Linked DNA regions of Homo sapiens: region 1 is linked to region 2. Evidence: fine-mapped expression QTL. A gene starts in region 2. The other region holds a variant in brackets. All regions are shown on one strand. Distances are between the middles of the regions.

What was found. PIP is the estimated chance that this variant, and not a neighbour inherited with it, causes the effect.
Region 1: its variant is fine-mapped to the expression of PHC1 in skeletal muscle (GTEx, PIP 0.98).

What each region holds. Positions count from the first base shown.
Region 1 is chr12:8,891,317-8,894,225 of GRCh38, reverse strand. No RefSeq gene overlaps it. Among named protein-coding and RNA genes, the nearest start is that of PHC1, 22 kb to the left of the region's middle. The variant C/A (reference allele first, on the strand shown) is at 1,685.
Region 2 is chr12:8,912,830-8,915,738 of GRCh38, reverse strand. It overlaps PHC1 (polyhomeotic homolog 1), which reads right to left and starts at 1,230. Exons shown (of 15, transcript NM_004426.3): 1 at 912-1,230. RefSeq lists silencers at 779-1,068, 1,139-1,188, 1,239-1,348.

The sequences.
Region 1 (2,909 bases), 22 kb after region 2:
ACCCTGTCTCTACTAAAAATACAAAAAAATTAGCTGGGCGTGGTGGTGTGCGCCTGTAATCCCAGCTACTCAGGAGGCTGAGGCAGGAGAATCTCCTGAACCCGGGAGGTGGAGGTTGCAGTGAGCTGATGAGCTGAGATCACACCATTGTACTCCAGCCTGGGCAACAAGAGTGAAACTCCATCTCAATAAATAAATAAATAAATAAAGTAATAATAATTTTAAAATAATTAAAATTTTTAGAAAGGAATTCTGCACTTTGGGTCTTATTTTCCTCATTTTTCAGTTGAAGAGACCTGATTGCATGATTTCTAAAGACATTTCCAATTCTAAGAAATTCTAATTCTATTTTCTGCCAATGATGGGCATTTCTTGAACTTTATCAAGAGTGCAGAAAATAGTCTTCACTCCATCTCCTGAGAACTAAAAAAGGTACAGGGTCTTGTCTCCCTAGGACCACTAACATGAGAGGCTCTCGCTGATGAGGGACTTTAGTCATAGGATGGATTCTTATGCATTTAGGATGGTGACTTCCTCACTTGGAAAGTCTATGTGTACATTCCTATTCAAAATATCTGGAAAGCTGGGCGCAGTGGCTCACGCTTGTAATCCCAGCACTTTGGGAGGCCGAGGCGGGCGGATCATGAGGTCAGGAGATCGAGACCACGGTGAAACCCCATCTCTACTAAAAATACAAAAAATTAGCCGGGCGTGGTGGCGGGTGACTGTAGTCCCAGCTACTTGGGAGGCTGAGGCAGGAGAATGGCGTGAACCCAGGAGGCGGAGCTTGCAGTGAGCCGATATTGCGCCCCTGCACCCCAGACTGGGGGACAGAGTGAGACTCCGTCTCAAAAAAAAAAAAAAAAAAAAAAATCTGGAAAGCAGACCACAAGATGTACAGAACAAATGGCGGAACACAGAAACCAGAAACACGGAGAAAAGTAATCTCGGTTCCAGAGAAGGCATAGGCTATCTCCCCTTACAAGAACAATCCTCCCACACCGCACCCCTCACCTGTCTCATTCCTGCTTATTCTTCATCTTGCAACTTGAGTGTCACTTCTGGGAATTCTTAATTCAGCCCAAAGATTAGGTTAGGTTCCCACAACCTGACTGTGCTTTGTCACATTCATCCCCCTAATGAAGGGCAGGCAGTGTTGCTCTCCCTCACTAAGCTGCAAGCCTGGGAAGGGCAGGGAGTGTGGTTGTCACATTCATCCTGTTCACTACTCAGTGGGTGCCCAACAGATTCGCACTTAATGAAGGCCCCTCTGCTGGCCTTCAGATTTCAGTGCTTATGGAATAATTATTTCTGTCCCCTGCCACTCAGCCCTGTACTCTGCTTTGTGATGGAAAAGAGGAAACCAGGAATAAGAAAATGTGCCCCACAGATTTTGCCAAAACCATAATCTGTTAGATAAATTGCTGAGAGGGAAAACACTAGAATACCTCAAACGGTAATTCCATTCAACACAAAATACGTAAATATACGTACTTTGGGAAAGTACATCACATATCACCACAGAGCAAACGCTGTTGGATCGCCATTATTTAAGGAATATCTCATACTCAGTTTCTGGATTTCTGCAACAACTGGTAAAGGGGAAAATATCACATTTCTTAAATTTATACATGTATAGGCTGGGCACGGTGGCTCACACCTGTAATCCCAGCACTTTGGGAGG[C/A]CGAGAGGGGAGGATCACTTGAGGTCAGGAGTGTGAGACCAGCCTGGCCAACATGGTGAAACCCTGTCTCTACTAAAAATACAAAAAAGTTGTCTGGGCTTGGTGGTGGGAGCCTATAATCCCAACTACTTGGGAGGCTGAGATAGAAGAATCACTTGAACCTGGGAGGCGGAGGTTGCACTGAGCCGAGATCGTGCCACTGCACTCCAGCCTGGGTGACAGAGCAAGACTCTGTCTCAAAAAAAAATAAAAAGATAAAAATAATAATAAAAGAAATTTATACATGTATAGTTGAATAAGCACAGAATATCTCTGAAAAGATATACCAGAAACTGAGAATTAGCCAAGCCCCACCCACACACTTTACTGCCTACATTAGCTTGACTTTGCTATTCTACTGTCTTTACCAACAAGACTTTAGTATTTCAGGAAGCCCTTGCCCCAAAAATAAAAGCTGTAATGGGAATGGGTAATGGGTACAAAAAAATAGAATGAATAAAATGTAGTATTTGATAGCACAACAGAGTGACTCTAATCAATAATAATTTAGTGTGCATTTTAAAATAACTAAAAGTACAATTGTATTATTATTTTTTCTTGAAACAGAGTCTCACTCTGTCACCCAGGCTGGAGTGCAGTGGCTCAGTCTTGGCTCACTGCAACCTCTGCCTCCCAGGTTCAAGCAATTCTCCTGCCTCAGCCTCCTGAGTAGCTGGAATTACAGGCGCCCGCCACCACGCCCGCCTACTTTTTGTATGTTCAGCAGAGATGGGGTTTTGCCATGTTGGCCAGGCTGGTCTCCAACTCCTGACCTCAAGTGATCTACCCACTTCAGCCTCCCAAAAGTCCTGGGATTACAGGCGTGAGCCACTGTACCTGGCCTAATTGTATTGTTTGTAACACAAAGGATAAATGCTTGAGGTCATAGATATCCCATTTACCCGGATGTGATTATTACACATCACACGCCTGTATCAAAACATCTCATGTATCCCATATACCTACTCTGCACTCACAAAATGAAATTTTTAAAAACTTTTTATTTCCATAGGTTATTGGGGCACAGGTGGTATTTGGTTACATGAGTAAGTTCTTTAGTGGTGATTTGTGAGATTTTGGTGCACCCATCACCCGAGCAGTATACACTGAACCCAATTTGTAGTTTTTTATTCCTCTCTCCCTTCCCACCCTTTCCGCCCAAGTCCCCAAAGTCCTTTGTATCATA
Region 2 (2,909 bases):
TTCATTTGTGATCAACATTATGACTACAAGATTAAATATAAAAAATGGAGACAACAAACAGTTTGGGCAGCACCAGGTATCAAAATTTTCCAAATTAAACTGGAAGACAGTGAGAAGCTGATCCACAGATGCCCCCAGAGTAGCTAAGCCATGGTCATCTTAAAAGGTAGCATGTGGGCATACATGGGGTTGGGTAGGCGCACAGACCTACCGAAGGGAGTTAGAATGGGACATTGAGGTGGACTTAGCATTGGGCCGAGAGTTGGAGAAAGTCAATATCCCTAAGCACGAAACTCTTATCATGCAGAAAGGATGGGACATAGGAAGGGGGACGGGAGAAGGGGGTGGTTCAGGGAAGACTGTGCCAAAGACACGGTAATAATCAAGAGAACAGGGAGTAGACGCCCAAGGGTCCTCGTTCTATATAGAACCTTGATGAAAATGATGTTTCAAAGAGAAATCAAATACACTGGGGGAAGGGGGTGGATCCAGTGGTGCGCCGGGAATGAACTGACCCAAGTGAGCTGGGACATGTGCATACAGAGAGCAGAGGCAGAAGTCAAGGAACTGGAGGCTGAGGAACCCAGCGGACCACGAAAGCAGGGAGATAACTAGACAGCATGCTCGGCTGGAAGGACCAAAGTCAGAGAAGGAAAAATGAATAAGAAAATGAGCAGTCAGAGGCAGCTAGGGTGACGGACAGACAGCATGAAGCGCAGCAGAATGAATAGCCAGAAGACTCGGACAGGCAGAGCCGAAGGACCGCAGAGCTCAGCGCCGGAGGTAGGCAGGGAAAGCAACTGGGGGAGGTACCTGGGGCGTTACACAGATGGAGGTGGCTGAGGATACATCCCCGCGCAGCCAAGCCCCCAGAGGTCCTGCCCCTCCCCGGCCCTCGGTCGCCCGGTTACCTTCTCGCCTGGCTGTGCACCCAAGTCTTCCCCGGGGGCGTCCACCTCATGTGCCGGGGTCCCCAGTCGCCAGGCTGGGCTGGGGGCTCGCTCGGCCTCCGCGGCGGGCTCCCCTCGCCTCCTCCCCTTCCTGGAGGGGCGGGGGCGCCGAGGGCGGGGTGGGAGGCGCCCGGCGCGACCGCGGCTCCCCGCCCCTCCCGCCGCTCCGGGTGCGGGCCCGGCCGCGGCTCAGCCAGGCCTCCGGGGCTCGCTCCGGGCCTGTCACTTCCTGCCCGGCCGAGAAGGTGGGGGCCGCAGGCCAGGGGCTGCGGGCCGGGCTGGAGGAGGGGGCTGCGGGGAGGTGCTTCCGGGGCAGCCGGACCCCCCCCCCGCCGTCCCTCCGCCTCCCCTCGGCGCCCTCCGCCCCCTCCCTCCCGCGCGTCCCTCGTTTCCTGCCGGCGCCCGTTGCCATGGCGACGCAGCTCCCGGGCCTCTGCGCTCCAGGCCCAGGGGTTTTTTCCTCTCTTGCTCTCTTTCTCCTCTTTTTTACCCCCTTCTTTCTCTCCGAGTTCTGCTCGCCGGTTGGAAGGACGAAACTAAGAAAGTGCTGGCCTCTAGTGGGGAACGCACCTCTCGGAGAGGAGAGGGAGATGGGAGAAGGGAGGGAAGTGACGTGAGACGGGGAGAAAGAAGGTATTTTCTGGAGCTGCTGGGAATAAGGGGTAGAAAGAAAGGATCAAAGGGACCAACAGACAGAGAGGGAGAAAGAGCAAAGCAACGACCCCTAGAGAAACGATAGACTGGGAAAAGAAATGAAGCAAAGGAAAGGAAGGAAAAGGCGAGAAAAACTTTGAGAATGAGAGAAAGGAGAGAGAAGGTTGATTGTTTAATCCCTCACCTCAACTCCAAGAAGGCGGGAAAGAATGCTGCAGAAACAGCTAACCCATTAGGAGTTGACTTCATTTTCAAAGCAGCAACCTAATGTAACTTCCTTTGGATAGCATTTAAGTTTGTCATTTCAGGGATTTGTGTGTGCTTCGATTTCAATATGTATATGAGTTCGAATGACAAAAACGGGAAAAGGCCAGAGTATAACGAGATGTAGAACAATGGGGCTGTCTCTGGGAACACTAAACATTTGATAGGGGAGCCGTTGTCGTTGTATTTATGATATCAACTTACCGGTTTTTAATTACTCTCTCATCGTTCAACATTCAATAAATATTTATAGAGCGTCTACTATGTGCTAAACCGTGGAAGCTTGGATTGCATCAGTGCACGAAACAAAGATAACTGCCTTACTGCCTTCATTAACCTTTACAGAAGGGTCTGGGGGATGCCTCGTGGATTAACAACTGGGATTGATGCCTTTTCTCTTGCTCTCAGTCTTTTCCTAACCTCTATCCTAAACAGTTATTTTCTCTGTCAATCCACTCTTCCTTTTCTCCTTTAAAAGCCCATGCATGGTTTGTTTATAGAGAAAAAAACAGAAGTGTTATCTTTGCTTATAAATTATATCCATTTAGATTTTGCTTTGAGAGAGGAGTATTTGGACTCCAAGGTCTTTCATTTGTGGCAGCCAGATTAAAATCGGAGAACAATTTCTGCCAGGCTTCTAGGAACTAGTCAGACAGGTATGTGAGGGAAGAAACCGGAGGGCAGCCAAAGGACTGGAAAAGCGAAGACACGGGGTATGAGGAGGTGAAAGGGTGTGTTACCAGGCCGTGGATGACAGGCACTGGCTGAGGATGATTTGAAAAGATTCTGACTGGTAGAACTAGTGGTGAAAACGAGGTAAAGCATTCGTTGTTTAATTCACACCTGGATTTTTGGCATGTCAAAGCAGTTAAAGCTTTCTTGCAGAAGTTTAGAAATGGATATCGATTGAGCCTAGGCGGAATTTTCTAGCACCAATGGAAAAAAAAAGCATCTATAGATAATTTTCAGATTATACAACATTAAAGTTAAGAAACATGACTCATGTGCTTCCTTAGTTTCCCTGGGAGAATTATCACTGTT